2 separate regions of the Homo sapiens genome follow, and region 1 is linked to region 2. Evidence: fine-mapped expression QTL. A gene starts in region 2. The other region holds a variant in brackets. All regions are shown on one strand. Distances are between the middles of the regions. Region 1 has its middle 27 kb from the start of UBIAD1. Region 2 holds the start of UBIAD1 (UbiA prenyltransferase domain containing 1).

The links.
Region 1: its variant is fine-mapped to the expression of UBIAD1 in whole blood (TOPMed, PIP above 0.99).

What each region holds. Positions count from the first base shown.
Region 1 is chr1:11,295,687-11,304,020 of GRCh38, forward strand. It overlaps a transcript of UBIAD1 not described here. Among named protein-coding and RNA genes, the nearest start is that of UBIAD1, 27 kb to the left of the region's middle. The variant C/T (reference allele first, on the strand shown) is at 3,826.
Region 2 is chr1:11,268,278-11,276,611 of GRCh38, forward strand. UBIAD1 (UbiA prenyltransferase domain containing 1) reads left to right here and starts at 4,921. Exons shown (of 2, transcript NM_013319.3): 1 at 4,921-5,783. The coding sequence starts at 5,255. RefSeq lists silencers at 4,500-4,769, 4,830-4,879 and enhancers at 4,880-5,049, 5,140-5,189.

The sequences.
Region 1 (8,334 bases), 27 kb after region 2:
CCCTCAGATTCAGGGGAAGTGCTGAGGGGGTCAGAGGTCACCATGGTCACCAATGAGGGCCTTCCAGCTGACACTTGCCTTGGCCAAAGACCTTTACTGAGAGCCTGCTCTGTCCCAGGAGGCAAGATAAACGAGGCACACCCCTGCCCTTTGAGGACACACAGTGAACTAATAGCAAAAGCTACATGCATACATTATCCTGCCACCTCAAGTGTCAACATAGACACTTGTCCCTAGAGATCCTTAAAGCCCCTCTGAAGGACAGGCCACTCACAGCCATGTGTGAGACATAGAGGCATAAAGGCTGTGGGGAAATGAGGGCAGAAGAGATGAACTTCTCCATGCCCCATTGTTCCAGACTGCGATCAATTCACTATCTATGACTAGATCTCCTCTGATGCCATCTGCAGGTGGCTGCAAGACCAGTCAATTTATTGAACAAGTATTATGTTACAGGCACTTGCTAAGCTCTGGGAGGTATCATGGTAAATGAGACCTTATCCCTGTCCTCAGGAAACTTACACTCTCCAGAGGACAGACAGACAAACAGGCACACCTTATATCACTCCTGGAGCTTGACTGGTGAAGTGGAAAGAGTTTGGGCTTTCGAGTCTGGCAGCACTGGGTGGGTAGAAGTCCAGGCTCGATCACTCACCCCCGGGATACCCTCAGACAAGCTACATAACCTCTTTGAGCTTCCGGTGCCTCCTCTGCAAAGGAGGATGATAGGATTTGCCCTGTAGGGTAATTTTGGGTTTAAATGAGGTAGTGCTCACAGAGTACTTAGCATGTGCCTGGTGAGTAGTAGGCACTTCATAAAGTGAGTTCCCCCTGTCCCCCCCTTTGTTTTGAGACAGGATCTCACTCTGTAGCCCAGGGTGGAGTGCAGTAGCACAATCATGGCTTACTGCAGCCTCAACCTCCCTGGGCTCAGGTGATCTTCCCACCTCAGCCTCCAGAGTAGCTTGGACTACAGGCTTGCACCACCATGCCCAGCTAATTTTTGTATTTTTTATAGAGACAAGATTTCACCATGTTGCCCAGGCTGGTCTCCAGCTCTTAGGCTAAAGCAATCCGCCCGCCTCAGCCTCCCAAAGTGCTGGGATTACAAGCCTGAGCCACTGCTTCCAGCCCCCTTTCCTTTCTTATGGATGACTATTTTAGAATGTTGTTTTTTGTGTAATCTTAGACTTTCCTACCAAGGCAGAGGGCCCATGGCTGAGGGTCCATGTTCTTCCCAGTACTCAGCACAGTGCCTGGTACATTCATTCATTCATTCAACAAACATGTATTGAGCACCTGATAAGTACCAGGAACTGTATTAAAACTAAACATAGAAAATGAACAAGACCAGATCTCTATGCTCCCAGAGCTTATATGATAGTAAGGGAGATAGAAAAGAAACAACTATTCATTGTGAAACTCTCTGCTGTGGTTTGAATGTTGTATCCTCCCAGATTCATGTTGAATCCTAATGTTGAATCCTATGTTGAAGCCTAATCCCCAACATGATTGTATTAGGAGGTGGCAACTTTGGGAGGTGATTAGGTCACGAGAGTAGAGTCCTCATGGGTAGAGTATTAGTGCCCTGATCAAAGAGACCCCAGGGAGCTGCCTTGCTCCTTCCTCCATGGGAGGACACAGCTGGAAGGCACTATCTATGAACCAGAAAGTGGCCTTCACCAAACCAAATCTGCCTTGGTTTTGGACTTCTCAGCCCCCAGACCTGTGAGACATTTCTGTTGTGTATAAGCCATCTAGTTTAATGGTATTTTGCTATAGTAGCCTGAATGGCACTCTGTGTATGGGGGTGGGGGTGTCCATTTGGTGATTCCGAGGGGCTCTGCCCTGGCACCAGGATAAGTTCCATGCAGAAACCAAAGGATGACCCATCTGCAGCCCTTCTGTCAGGAGAGCCAAGCCTGGCTGTGCTGAGATCAGAATCCTGGTGGGGTGACTATGAAAAAGTTGGGGTCTTGGCCTTGGGGTCAAAGATTGTCAAGGTGACTTCTCATTCGAATGCTTCACAGCCCTGGAGGCTTGACAGTTGAGAATGCGCTGAAGAAGTCCTGGATGGAGAGACAGGTGGTCTTACATGTGGCTGTGAGTGGCCTGTCCTTCAGAGAGGCTTTAGGAATCTCTAGGTACAAGGGAAAGATAACATCCCCTTGGGCTGCAGTCCAGGTTCATTCAACAAGGGAAGAAAACTGGAAAACATCTGATGTCTGTTTTACCAGAGTTGTTACTATTACTTTTACTATTATTGTTTTTTGTTTTTTTGTTTTTTTTTTGAGACGAAGTTTTGCTCTTGTTGCCCAGGCTGAAGTGCAGTGGCACGATCTCGGCTCACTGCCACCTCCATCTTCTGGGTTCAAGCGATTATCCTGCCTCAGCCTCCCGAATAGCTGGGATTACAGCATGCACCACCATGCCCAGCTAATTTTGTATTTTTAGTAGAGAAGGGTTTCACCATGTTGGTCAGGCTGGTCTCAAACTCCTGACCTCAAGTGATCCACCCACTCTGGCCTCCCAAAGTGTTGGGATTACAGGCATGAGCCATTGCTCCCCACCAGAGTTGTTATTATATTTTAAAAAATTGGGCCAGACACAGTGGCTTATGCCTGTAATCCCAGCACTTTGGGAGACCGAGGCAGGTGAATCACCTGAGGTCAAGTGTTTGAGACCAGCCTGGCCAATGTGGCAAAAACCCATCTCTACTAAAAATACAAAAATTAGCCGGGCATGGTGGCACATATTGTAATCCCAGCTACTCCGGAGGCTGAGGCAGGAGAATCACTTAAACCTGGGAGGTGGAGGTTGCAGTGAGCTGAGATTGTGCCATTGCACTCCAGCCTGGGTGACAGAATGAGACCCTGTCTCCAAAAATAAATAAATAAATAAATAAATAAATAAATAAATAAAAGTTTCCCATGTGCATGTGTGCACATATGTGTGTACACTTATGGACATTTGGGGACACCTCCTGCACCCCGCAGTGGTGCAGTTATTATCCTGGGTATTCAGTAGGTGCTGAACGTGAAGGGAACCCAATGCAGTGAGCGACACCTGGTAAAGCCATCTCAATGTCTAGACAAGCAGTCTCCATGCAGCTCCAAGGAGGATAAGGGGAAACCACAGAGGGCTGTGAGCAGAGGGTTGCTCAGAGCCCCTCCTGACGGAGGCGAGGAGGAGGTGGAGCCATTCGTTATCCTGCCAGCTTGGCACAGAGGCTGGGTGCAGGGGCTGGGTGGCTGTGCTGAGAAGAGCCATTCCATTTCCAAGAAGGAACAGGGAGGGGATGGTGAGGAGCGAAGATAACCAAGTCAGTCAAGCAGGGCAGAGCACGGTGTAATCCATGCCCTAGGCCATCACAGTGGCTGCAGCCAATCTCACTGCATGAGAGGTGGGAGAAGATGGGCTTCCCCAGGAGAGGCCCTGCCCTGGAAACCCCACTGCCTGCCCTGGGTCATCCTTGATACTCATTCCCTTGTTTCTCTCAGTGGCGGGCATGACAGCAACATGTCAAGGCCGCCTAACCACAGTCACAGTGAGAGCCACCAGACGCTGGATCCGGGCAGCAACTTGGGGTTCACTGAAGCTTTCTCCGTGCTTTTCTCACGCTGGCCTCCCTATGGCCCTGAGAGGTGCATGCTCGGCTTGTTTCATGGGCTGAGTGGTTCAGTGACTTGCTCGGGATCACAACCACCGCACAGGAGCACCACACATGGCCTGGACTGGTTCTCTTCCAACTCTAAAAGCAGCACTCATTTGGTTAACAGTCTTTTTCATTTTCAACACTTCTTTCTTTTGAAGGGGGGAGCAAAG[C/T]GTGATCGGTTGCCTTTTATAATTCTCGTTTTCAATTTCAATCTCTTTTAAAATGTTGAAAGACTCACAGCTGCCTCTTTTGTTATTGTCTTCATCTCCCACCCTCTTTCCGGCCTCTCCTCCTTGCCTTTCCTTCCCTTAACCCTTCCCATGGCTCCTCTGAGCTGCCCAGGCATGTGGCCGGCTTGTCATGCTGGTGGCCTTGGATGTTGGAGAAGAGGGGGAAGAGGTAGGATTGAGGGGCTCCATCAGAGACAGGGTCTCAGGGGTCTTCACAGTTTGATGGATTTTTTTTTTTTTTTTTGAGACAGAGTCTCTCTGTTGCCCAAGCTGGAGTGCAGTGGCACGATCTCAGCTCACTGCAACCTCTGCCTCCCAGGTTTAAGTGATTCTCCTGCCTCAGCCTCCCGAGTAGCTGGGACTACAGGTGCGTGCCACCATGCCCAGCTAATTTTTATATTTTTAGTAGAGACAGGGTTTCACCATGTTGGCCAGGCTGGTCTCAAACTCCTGGCCTCAGGTGATCCACCCATCTTGGCCTTCCAAAGTACTGGGATTATACGCATGAGCCACCATGCCCGGCCTAATTTTTGTAGAGACAGAGTCTTGCCATGTTGCCCAGCCAGGAGTCAAATAGCAGGAAGGCTCTGCTCCAAACAATGCTTGGTTTTCCATTGAAGACATCTAATAACTTTTACAATTTTTTTTTTTTTGAGACACAGTCTCCCTCTGTCACCCAGGCTGGAGTGCAGTGGTGTGATCTTGGCTCACTGCAACCTCTGCCTCCTGGGTTCAAGTGATTCTTGTGCCACAGCCTCCTGAGTAGCTGGGATTACAGGCGCCCACCACCATGCCTGGCTAATTTTTGTATTTTTAGTAAGACAGGGTTTCACCATGTTGGCAAGGCTGGTCTCGAACTCCTGACCTCAAGTGATCTACCAGCCTTGGCCTCTCAAAGTGCTGGGATTACAGGCATGAGCCACTGCGCCCGGCCAAAAAAAAATTTTTGTTTATTCAAAATTTCTGTCTTTTTTTTTGAGACAGGGTCTCACTCTGTGGCCCAGGCTGGAGTGCAGTGGCAAGATCACCGCTCACTGAGGCCTCGGCCTCCCCAGGCTCAGGTGATCCTCCCACCTCAGCCTCCCGAGTAGCTGGTACTACAGGCATGCACCACCACACCCAGCTAATTTTTGTATTTTTAGTAGACACGGGGTTTTACCATGTTGACCAGGCTGGTCTCGAACTCCTGACCTCAAGTGATCCACCTGCCTCGGCCTCCCAAAATGCTGGGGTTACAGACGTGAGTCACCATGCCTGGTGAATGGATGGTTGATTCTATTTGCTTTGTGCAGTCTGACTGATGTAAATCATCTCAGCCATGTCTGGGCATTGGAGTCAGGTTTAGGCAGGAGTGGCCTCCAGGTCACCTGCAGAAACACACACGGCCGTGGCTCACCCCCTTGCTCCCAGTCACTCTGTGTCTGAGCCAACTTAGGATCGTGTATGTGTGTTCTCACACTTGAGACTCTTTTTTTAAATTTTTTATTTATTTTTTGAGACGGAGTCTCACTCTGTCACCCAGGCTGGAGTGCAGTGAGTGGCGCGATCTTGGCTCACTGCAAGCTCCGCCTTCCGGGTTCACACCATTCTCCTGCCTCAGCCTCCCAAGTAGCTGGGACTACAGGCGCCCGCCACCATGCCCGGCTAATTTTTTTGTATTTTTAAAATAGAGACAGGGTTTCACCATGTTAGCCAGGATGGTCTCGATCTCCTGACCTCGTGTCCGCCCGCCTCGGCCTCCCAAAGTGCTGGGATTACAGGCTTGAGCCACTGCGCCCGGCCACACTTGAGACTCTTAGCAATTCCATGACTGAGGTATGATAGCTCCCATTTTATAGATGAGGAAACTGAGGCTCCTTCAGCAAGTTAAACAGCTTGCTCTCAATGTCCCCAAACAGACCCAGCAGCCCAAGGTCTCAGAGCTGATGGCAGAGCTGGGATGAGAAGCCAAGTCCTTTGACTTCTAACCCAGTGCTTTTCCCGCCATGCTCTGTGTCCCATCCTTGGTCCTAATCTTGAGACGGCAGGACTAAGATTGGAGGACTTGTGGCTTCCAGGTTCCTCCTGAAAGCCACCAGAGATTTAAAAAAAAAAAAAAAGAGTGAGAGGTTAGCCTGATCCAGCGAGAGCAGCGATGGCTCCCTGGGTGAGGATACATGCCAGCGAGTGAGGAGCTGCTGACTGGGGGGTGATCTCCCTGATAAATGATGGAGTGCCAGTTGCTTCTGCAGCTGCAGGGCTGCATCTGGGCCCCAGTGCTGATGCACGCTCCGCCTCCAGATCCGCATTGTCACCAGCTTGTTGGAAAAACAGATGTTATTGTCCTCTGTTCCTGTCCCTTTGTCCCTAATAGGCACTTAAGCGCAGGAGGGGGAAAAAGAAACGGAGACAGAATCGTGTAACTATTTCAGGCTCTTTCCAGAAGCATGCACTTCTGTGGGACTTGGGGTCTGGGATGGAATGGGTGCAGGGAAGCACCCCCTGCCCCCTGCCCCAGTGTTTCTGGGACAGCCCTGGGGAGAAGCTGCTTGTTGGTCCAAGGCAGTGGGTGCTGAGGACTAGTTCTTGGAGGAGACGCCTTCCTTCTCTCTTAGATCTGCACCTGGAGTGGGCCCTAAGCTGACATTTCAAAGAAGGAATGCTGGGGACCTCTGGTCTTCTGCCTGGACTGCCAGAGTTTGGAAGATTGGATGAGGTCAAGGGCTGATGAGATCAAGGTCTTTTGTTCCATTCTTGTTTGGGCTTCATCCATCCATCCATCCATGCATGCAGTGATTTGCTAAACACATTCTTTTTTTTTTTTTTGAGACAAGGTCTTGCTCCCAGACAGGGGTGGCAGTGGCATAGTCACAGCTCACTGCAGCCTCCAGGGCTCAAGCAATCCTCCTGCCTCAGCCTCCCGAGTAGCTGGGACCACAGGTACATGCCACCATGCCTGGCTAATTTTTTGATTTTTTGTAGGGATGGGGTCTCACTATGTTGCCCAGGCGTAAGCACATCCCTAAGGGCATAACCCTACTCCTGACAGCAGCATACTGGTTTGCAGGTGAAAACTTTTCATGGAAAGGACAATACATTCTCTTCCATCAGGTCAGCCATGGCTATGATTTAATGGGAGCTCTGAGGCTCTCCTGCACCTAAATAGCTCTGCATCAACCTGCCTCTGTGCCTCAGATTCCACCATTAGTCAGTCCTCTGAATAAAGGCCTTATATTTCTCAAAGGTCCTTGCTAAAATACGAGCACATAACTGAGGAGATTCTCATTGAGGAAAAAAAATCTGCTTGTCACCATGGAGAACAGAGGATCAGGGCCTAAAATGAGTGCTACACAAGATGGGGACATTTTGATCAGGGAAAGATGAGAAGAGGGATGTCCATTCTGTGGGCTGCTGTCCTGGGAGGGAGGACCTGAGGAGCTGTATGAGAGAATTAGGAATTTAGGGGAAGCAGTTCTTTTTTTTTTTTTTTCCAAGATGGAGTCTTGCTCTCTCGCCCGGGCTGGAGTGCAGTGGTGCGATCTCAGCTCACTGCAACCTCTGCCTCCCGGGTTCAAGCAATTCTCCTGCGTCAGCCTCCTGAGTAGCTGGGATTACAGGCGTGCACCACCACGCTTGGCTAATTTTTCTATTTTTAGTAGAGACAGTATTTCGCCATGTTGGCCAGGCTGGTCTCGAACTCTTGTCCTCAAGTGATCCGCCTGTCTTGGCCTCCTAAATTGCTGGGATTACAGGTACGAGCCAGCGCACCTGGTCTAGGGGGAACAGTTCAGAGAGGGACCTGTCTGCATGCATCATTGGTTGCCCTATTCTGCTTTGAGACCGGCTGTGTAAGTACAGACTCCTAAAGAGCTATCTCAGCCTTCCTCGTCCTTGCTGGAATCAGAGATGCTTTTTTTTATTTTTTATTTTTATTTTTATTTATTTATTTTTTTTTGAGACAGGGTCTTGCACTGTTGCCCAGGCTGGAGTGCCGTGGTGGTGCAATCATAGCTCACTGCAGTCTCGAATTCTTGGGCTCAATGGATCCTCCTGCCCCAGTCTCCTGAGTACCTGGGACTAAAGGTGTGCACGCCTCGCCTAATTTTTAAAAAATGTTTTGTAGAAATGGGGGTTTTGTTATGTTGCCCCGGCTGATCTTCAACTCCTGGGCTTAAGTGATCCTTCTGCGTTGGCCTCCCAAAGTGCTGGGATTATGGGCATGAGCCACTTCGTCCAGGTGGGATGCATTTTTATGTTCTATTGACCCTCAAAATGGGAAAGCTCAGAGATTGGGCCACCTCTGTCCCCATAGGTACCTCCCTCCACATTTCATTGGGATATGAGGGACAGAAATGGGGTGGAGGCGGAGGCCCTAGCACCCCATCCATCTCCCATGTTCCTGCTGCCTTACCACACCCTGCGCCCTGCTCTGCGGCTTCTAGATGGTAAGAGTGGACAGAGCATTTGAGG
Region 2 (8,334 bases):
CGGCAGAGTAGCTGGGATTATAGGCGCACCCCACTGTACCCGGCTAATTTTTTGTATTTTTAGTAAAGACAAAGTTTCACCATGTTGGCCAGGCTGGTCTTGAACTCCTGACCTCAGGTAATCTGCCTGCCTCAGCCTCGCAAAGTGCTAGGATTACAGGTGTGAGCCACTGTGTCCAGCCTAATTTTTGTATTTTTAGTAGAGACGGGGTTTCACAATGTTGGCCAGGCTGGTCTCGAACTCCTGACCTCAAGTGATCAGCCTGCCTTGGCCTCCCAAAGTGCTGGGATTACAGGTGTGAGCCACCGCACCTGGCCCCTGATTAATTTTATAAAGTTTGTTGGGACGGTTTCATTTCCATCTTGGTACACACAGAGTTTCTTGTCCTTTTGTTGTTGCTACAGCTGCATAGTGTTCTATCACATGGCTGTGCCATAGTTCATTTTCCAGTCCTCTGTGAATGGACATTTGTGTTATGTCCAAATTTGTGCTATTACAAATGCTGCAGTGAATGCCTTTGTACGTATATCATTTTCTTCCCTGACAGCTATATCAAGATAAATTCCCAGAAATGGGATTACAGGGTTAGACAGTTTTGTTGAATCTTGTCAAGTTGATCTCTATAAGGGAGGTACCAATTTTTATTCCCATCAGCCATATAGGAGATTTTTGCCACCCTGAGATATGATACAGCCCTGTTTTCTAATTAATAATCAAAGATGATTTTATAGCAACAGTAATAAGTGCGTTTGTCGGTTTCTTTTCTGTTTACAAAGAACTTTCTTTTTTATTGTATTTTTGCAAGTCTTTTTATTTTATTATTATACTTCAAGTTCTAGGGTACATGTGCACAACGTGCAGATTTGTTACATAGGTATACATGTGCCGTGTTGGTTTGCTGCACCCATCAACTTGTCATTTACATTAGGTATTTCTCCTAACGCTATCCCTCCCCCAGCCCCCCAACCCCCAACAGGCCCCGGTGTGTGATGTTCCCCTCCCCGTGTCCATGTGTTCTCATTGTTCAACTCCCACTACAAAGAACTTTCTTATGCATTACACTAAAATAATAGCTAATATTTATTGAGCACTTACAGTGTATCAGGGATTTTGGTGGACATTATAGAGTACTTGTTAAAAGCAGCTTGGAGTCAAGTCAAACTAACTGAATCTGAAATTTGGCTGCAACACTTTGTACCTATTTCCTTATGTGTAAAACTGGAAGGATTATAGTCTCTTCGTTGGTAGGCAGTATTGTGGGGGTTAAACGCTAATACCACACGTAAAGTACCTAAAAGAGGTACTTGGCCCAGCATGGTGGCTCACACCTGTAATCCCAGCACTTTGGGAGGCCAAGGCAGGTGGATCACCTGAGGTCAGGAGTTCGAGATCAGCTTGGTAAAACCCTATCTCTACTAAAAATATAAAAATTAGCTGAGCATGGTGGCAGACGCCTGTAATCCCAGTTACTCAGGAGGCTGAGGAGGAGAATCACTTGAACCTGGGAGGTGGAGGTTACAGTGAGCCGAGATCGCACCACTGCACTCCAGCCTGGGCGACAGAGCAAGACTCCGTCTCAAAAGCAAACAAAGTATATGGCTCATGTGAAAAGTCAATAAATGCTGTTTACTATTATTCCTGAGCATTTCTATGAGGCAGGTTGTATTGTTCCCACCTTATATATAAGTAAGCCAAAGAACAGAGATATTGGGACATGGAATTGGTAAGTGATAGAGCCAGGATTTTAATCTATCTGCTGATATATTGTCTGATTTGACATTGTATGACTCATGGGTTTGGCCAGCATAGAAAGCTCTGTGTTGAGTGGTGAAGTTGTAATGTTCAACAACCAGATTGGGGGTAAGTGGAAGCAGACATGTACAGAGCTAGCTTCACAGCTGTGTCATGCTCTGTTTTGCAATTGTTAATGATTTTGAACAAGAGGCCCCACTTATTTTTTTTATTTTTTAAATTAATTAATTATTTTTTTTGAGATGGAGTTTTGCTCTTATTGTCCAGGCTGGAGTGCAATGGCACGATCTCGGCTCACCGCAACCTCCACCTCCCGGGTTCAAGTGATTCTCCTGCCTCAGCCTCCTGAGTAGCTGGGATTACAGGCATGCGCCACCACTCCCGGATGATTTTGTATTTTTAGTAGAGACGGGGTTTCTCCATGTTGGTCAGGCTGGTCTTGAACTCCCAACCTCAGGTCATCTGACCACCTTGGCCTCCCAAAGTGCTGGAATTACAGGCGTGAGCCACCGTGCCTGGCCTGGCCCCACTTATTTATTGATTTTATTTTATTTTTTTGAGATAGGATCTCACTCTATTACCCAGGCTGGAGTGCAGGGGCACAATCATGACTCACTGCAGCCTCAACTTCCCAGGCTCAGGTGATTCTTCCGCCTCAGCCTCCCAAGTAGCTGGGACCACGGGTGCACACTGCCACGCCTGGCTAATTCTTTTACTTTTTCTTTTTCTTTTTTTTTTTTTTTGAGATGGAGTCTTGCTCTGTCGCCCAGGCTGGAGTGCAGTGGCACGATCTCGGCTCACTGCAAGCTCCGCCTCCGGGGTTCATGCCATTCTCTTGCCTCAGCCTCCCAAGTAGCTGGGACTACAGGTGCCTGCCACCACGCCTGGCTAATTTTTTTGTATTTTTAGTAGACATGGTGTTTCACCATGTTAGCCAGAATGGTCTTATCTCCTGACCCCATGATCTGCCCGCCTCGGCCTTCCAAAGTGCTGGGATTACAGGCGTGGGCCACTGCACCTGGCCCACACCTGGCTAATTCTTCGATTTTTACCGTGTGGTCCAGGCTGGTCTTCTCCTGGGCTCAAGCGATCCACCTGCCTTGTCCTCCCAAAGTGTTGGGATTACAGGTGTGAGCCACCACATCTGGTCTTTTTAATTTTTTAGAGCGGAGATCTCACTTTGTTGCCCAGGCTGGTCTCTAACCTGAGCTCAAGAGATCCTCCCGCCGGGTGCGGTGGCTCACACCTGTAATCCCAGTACTTTGGGAGGCTGAGGCAGGCGGATCACGAGGTCAGGAGATAGAGACCATCCTGGCTGACACGGTAAAACCTTGTCTCTACTAAAAATACAAAATAATTAGCCGGGCGTGGTGGCGGGCGCCTGTAGTCACAGCTACTCGGGAGGCTGAGGCAGGAGAATGGTGTGAACCCTGGAGGCGGAGCTTGCAGTGAGCCGAGATTGTGTCACTGCACCCCAGCCTGGGCAACAGAGCAAGACTCCGTCTCAAAAAAACCTCCTGAGTAGCTGGGACTACAGGCACACATTATCACCCCCAGCTCCACCTCTTTAGTTTGCACTGGGTACCACAAATTATGTAGTCAGTCCTGTGTGCATCTATGTTGCATGTGTATTATAATTTCACTGATGTAAATGATGTGTAGCATACAGTTTACAAATACTAAAATATACAGTACAGGACTCTATTGTAAACTCCATATAGCCAGTTCTCACAGTATGCTTTCTTTGATGTTGTGTAGCTTCCCTATGGTCCCAATTGATCAATGAGCATAGTTCAGACATGAATGTTGGTTGATATTTTATGTTAGGAGTAAGAGGAAAGTGAAACAATCAAAAGAGATATGTCAGAACTTCACTAGTTTGTCAAGGCTACAAGCGACTTATTTGTTCAACTGGATAATAATTTGCCAATGCTGAACGAATATTTCCTCAAAGTTTTGGTGCATTCACTTACACACTTTTTTTCTCTCTTTTTTTTCTTTTTTGAGACGGAGTCTCGCTCTACTGCCCAGGCTGGAGTGCAGTGGCGTGATCTTGGCTCACTGCAGCCTCTGCCTCCAGGGTTCAAGCAATTCTCCTGCCTCAGCCTCCCGAGTAGCTGTGATTACAGGAATGCACCACCACCCCCGGCTAATTTTTTTTTTTTTTTTGAGATGGAGTCTCACTCTGTTGCCCAGGCTGGAGCCCATTGGCATGATCTTGGCTCACTGCAACCTCCATCTCCCGGGTTCAAGCAATTCTCCTGCCCCAGCCTCCCGAGTAGCTGGGATTACAGGTGCCTGCCACCACGCACGGCTAATTTTTGTATTTTTAGTAGAGACAGGGTTTCGCTATGTTGGCCAGGCTGATGTCGAACTCCTGACATCAAGTGATCCGCCTGCCTCGGCCTTCCAAAGTGCTGGGATTACAGGCGTGAGCCACCGCACCCTCCAACACTTTTAAGTTTAACCAGTAATATGAACATTTTCTCCGCCACTTTCTTAAGTCTAGACGACTTAGCAGTTATTAAGCATTTGCTGATTTGCGTGGTGTAAATTCTCCCACCATGGGCAGATTTCAAGCTGCTGAAGGATGTCACTGAATGAAAAGCTGATAAGAGGTGAGCAGTAGCACATCATAGAGTATTTCCACGGTGCAGATATGATAGACGTCAGAATGTATGCACACAGCAGGCGCTCAATAAATGCTTGTAGCATGAATAAATTAATGAATCCTACTTCGTGAATGAAAGTGCGCCCGGTAAGTCCTAAAGCAACACGCCTTCGAGTTCTTATGATGCTAAGAGAGGCTGATTGCAGTTAGTCTGGAAGTAGCTGCGGGGCGCAGTGCAGGCAGGAAAAGGGCTGGATGCCGGGTCACCGCCCGGCCCCAGCTCCTGGCCCGTCCCCGCTCCCGGTCCATTCCCGCCCCGGCCCCGCCCCCTCCCGCCCCACCACCGGTCTGGCCCCGCCCCTCAGCCCCGCCCCACCCCTCACCGCCCTTCTCCCCGCCTCTGACCCCGCCCCTCCTCTGACTCGGCCCTGCCCGCCCCGCCTCTGACCAGGCCCCCGCCCCCCACCCCTCACCGCCCTTCTCCCCGCCTCTGGCTCGGCCCCGCCCCCTCCCGCCCTCCAGCCCACCCTCCGGTCCAGCCCGCGCCGCCGGCACCTGTTTCCGGGCGGGCCTCCAGAGGCCGGCGCACAAGATGGCGGCTCTGGCGGCCTAAAGAAGGCGGCCGCGGCTCAGCCGTGGGCTCTAACGCGGGGCTGGGGGCCGGAGACAGACTTCGCCCAGGTGACGGGTAGTAGGGGCGGCGCCGCTTGGCCTCGTGGGGTGTAAGACCCACTTGCTGTTGCCCCCGGACCTTGCCGCCACACCAGCCCTGTCCTGGGGCGGAACCGAAGGAAGGTCGGGCCCTGCTGCCCCGCCCCGTCCTTCCTCCTTCCCGGGCGGTCACTGTGCGTGGCTCACTTTTAGAGTTTACTTCAACCACGTGGAGCTTCCATGGCGGCCTCTCAGGTCCTGGGGGAGAAGATTAACATCCTGTCGGGAGAGACTGTCAAAGCTGGGGACAGGGACCCGCTGGGGAACGACTGTCCCGAGCAAGATAGGCTCCCCCAGCGCTCCTGGAGGCAGAAGTGTGCCTCCTACGTGTTGGCCCTGAGGCCCTGGAGCTTCAGTGCCTCACTCACACCGGTGGCCCTGGGCAGTGCCCTTGCCTACAGATCCCACGGTGTCCTGGATCCCAGGCTCTTGGTGGGTTGTGCCGTGGCTGTCCTGGCTGTGCACGGGGCCGGTAATTTGGTCAACACTTACTATGACTTTTCCAAGGGCATTGACCACAAAAAGAGTGATGACAGGACACTTGTGGACCGAATCTTGGAGCCGCAGGATGTCGTCCGGTTCGGAGTCTTCCTCTACACGTTGGGCTGCGTCTGTGCCGCTTGCCTCTACTACCTGTCCCCTCTGAAACTGGAGCACTTGGCTCTTATCTACTTTGGAGGCCTGTCTGGCTCCTTTCTCTACACAGGAGGTAAGATTTGGCCTGTCCTGTGTGCTGCAGGTCTTAGTCGCGTCCACTGGAAACCGCTGCTTTGTAAAGGAGTTATAGGGATGTCAAAGGTGGCTTTCTAATTTAAGCCGCTTTAATTGAAGTCTATAATTGTGGGTGATGTGAATTTTTTGAAACAGTGATTTGAGAAGATCCTGGTTTGACTTACGGACGTAGGGCATGACTGAAAATTTTATATGGACATTTATTTTTATTTATTTTTTATGTATTCATTTTTGAGACGGAGTCTCGCTCTGTCGCCCAGGCTGGAGTGCAGTGGTGCGATCTCGGCCCACTGCAGCCTCTGCCTCCCGTGTTCAAGCGATTCTCCTGCCTCAGCCTCCCGAGTAGCTGGGACTACAGGTGCACGCCACCACGCCTGGCTGATTTTTGTATTTTTATTAGAGACGGGGTGTCACCATGTTGGCCAGGATGGTCTCGATTTCCTGACCTCGTGATCCACCCGCCTCAGCCTCCCAAAGTTCTAAGATTACAGGCGTGAGCCACCGCGCCCTGTCAGGACATTTTTTAATTTTTTTTATTTTTTTTGAGACAGAGTCTCGCTCTGTTGCCCAGGCAAGGGTGCAGTGGCACCATCTCGGCTTACTGCAACCTCTGTCTCCCGGCTTCAAGCGATTCTTCTGCCTCAGCTCCCCGAGTAGCTGGGACTACAGGCATGTGCCACCACGCCTGGCTAATTTTTGTATTTTTAGTAGAGACAAGGTTTCACCATGTTGGCCAGGCTGGTCTTGAACTCCTGACCTCATGACCTGCCTGTCTTGCCCTCCCAAAGTGCTGGGATTACAGGCGTGAGCCACCATGCCCGGCCTATATGGACATTTTTTCTGTCTCATTTTTTTTTTTAATCACTCATACTTTATAATGCCACAGTTTCAAATATTAGAATTAAATCTGAAGAGTTCAAAATGATATAGATAATTACTTCTAGCTAGTTTGCTAGGTGACTTCTTGCAAGAGGCTGATTAAGGTAGTGATGGGCAGGTGGGTAAGCCCTATTTATTGAGCACCTATTATGTGCCAGGCACTGTTCTGTGTGAACACAGCAGTCACAGATCCCTGCCCTTGTGAAACTTACGTATTATCATGAAAAGAGACAGAAAGTAAAAATAGAAAATTATAGTTAGGGTGACCAATATCCTGGTTTGCTCAGGACTAAGGTGACAGGACTAAGTCGGATGTGCGACTTCTGGAGCTAAAACCAGAAAAGTTCCTGGTAAGTCAGGTTGAATTGATCACCCTGATTATAGTATATGAAAGATGATAAGTGCTATGGGAAAAAAAAGTAGAGCAAAGAATGGGACACAGATTACTATTTTAAGTAGTTTGATCAGGGTAGGCTTCATCAAAAAGGTAACATTTGGCTGAGTGCAGTGGCTCATGTCTGTAATCCCAGCCCTTTGGGAGGCTGAAGCGAGAGGATCGCTTGAGGCCAGGAGTTAAACACCAGCCTGGGCAACATAGACCCCTGTCTGTATAAAATATAAAATAAAAAATATTAGCTGGGCATGGTGGTGCTTGCCTGTGGTCCCAGCTACTTTGGAGGCTGAGGCGGGAGAATTGCTTGAGCCCAGGGGTCAAGGCTGCAGTGAGTCCTGATCACACCACTGCACTCCAGCCTGGGCGACAGAGTGAGACCATGCCTCAGAAAGGTAGTATTTGAGTTGAGTTACATTGAAGGAGGTAAGAGGTGAGGGAGTTGGCCAAGCAGATATCTGAGAGAGGAGCATTTCAGGAAAAGCAACAGCAAGTGCCATAGGCCTTCAGGCAGGAATGTGTCCAAAGAGCTTACAGAGCAGCAAGAAGTCCAGTGTGTGAATGAAGGAGAGAGTAAAGAGAGGTAAAGTAAGAGAAGTACGTTTGGGGAGGGTAAGGAGGCACACACACGGATTATATAGACCTTGTAGGCCACTGGTCTTGGCTCTGGAATGGAGGAGCCACTGCAGGACTTTGAGCAAGGGAGTGATGTAATATAATGTTTTAAAAGAATTGCTCTGGGTAAGGTATTGAGAATGGATCAAGGGGAGTGGGGCAAGGGTAGAGGCAGGAAGACCAAGTAGGAAGCTCTTGAATAATCCAGGCAAGCGATGTTTGGTGGCTTGTATCTAGCGGGTGGTAGTGGAAGAGGTAAGTAGCCAGATTCTAAATATGCTTTGAAGGTAGACAGGGTTTGCTGATGGATTGGATGTGAGGTAAAGAGAAACAGAGGAATTAAGCATAACTCAAAGGTTTTTTTTTTTCTTGGACACATTCCACATTTTATTTACATTTTCAGACTAACTTTGGGCTGGGTGCTGTGCCTCATGCCTGTAATCTCAGCACTTCGGGAGGCCAAGGCAAGTGGATCACTTGAGATCAGGAGTTCCAGACCAGCCTGGCCAACATGGTGAAACCTTGTCTGTACTAAAAATACAAAAATTAGCCAGGCGTGGTGGCATGTGCCTGTAGTCCTAGCTACTCGGGAGGCTGAGGCAGGAGGATTGCTTGAGCCCAGTAGGCAGAGGTTGCAGTGAGC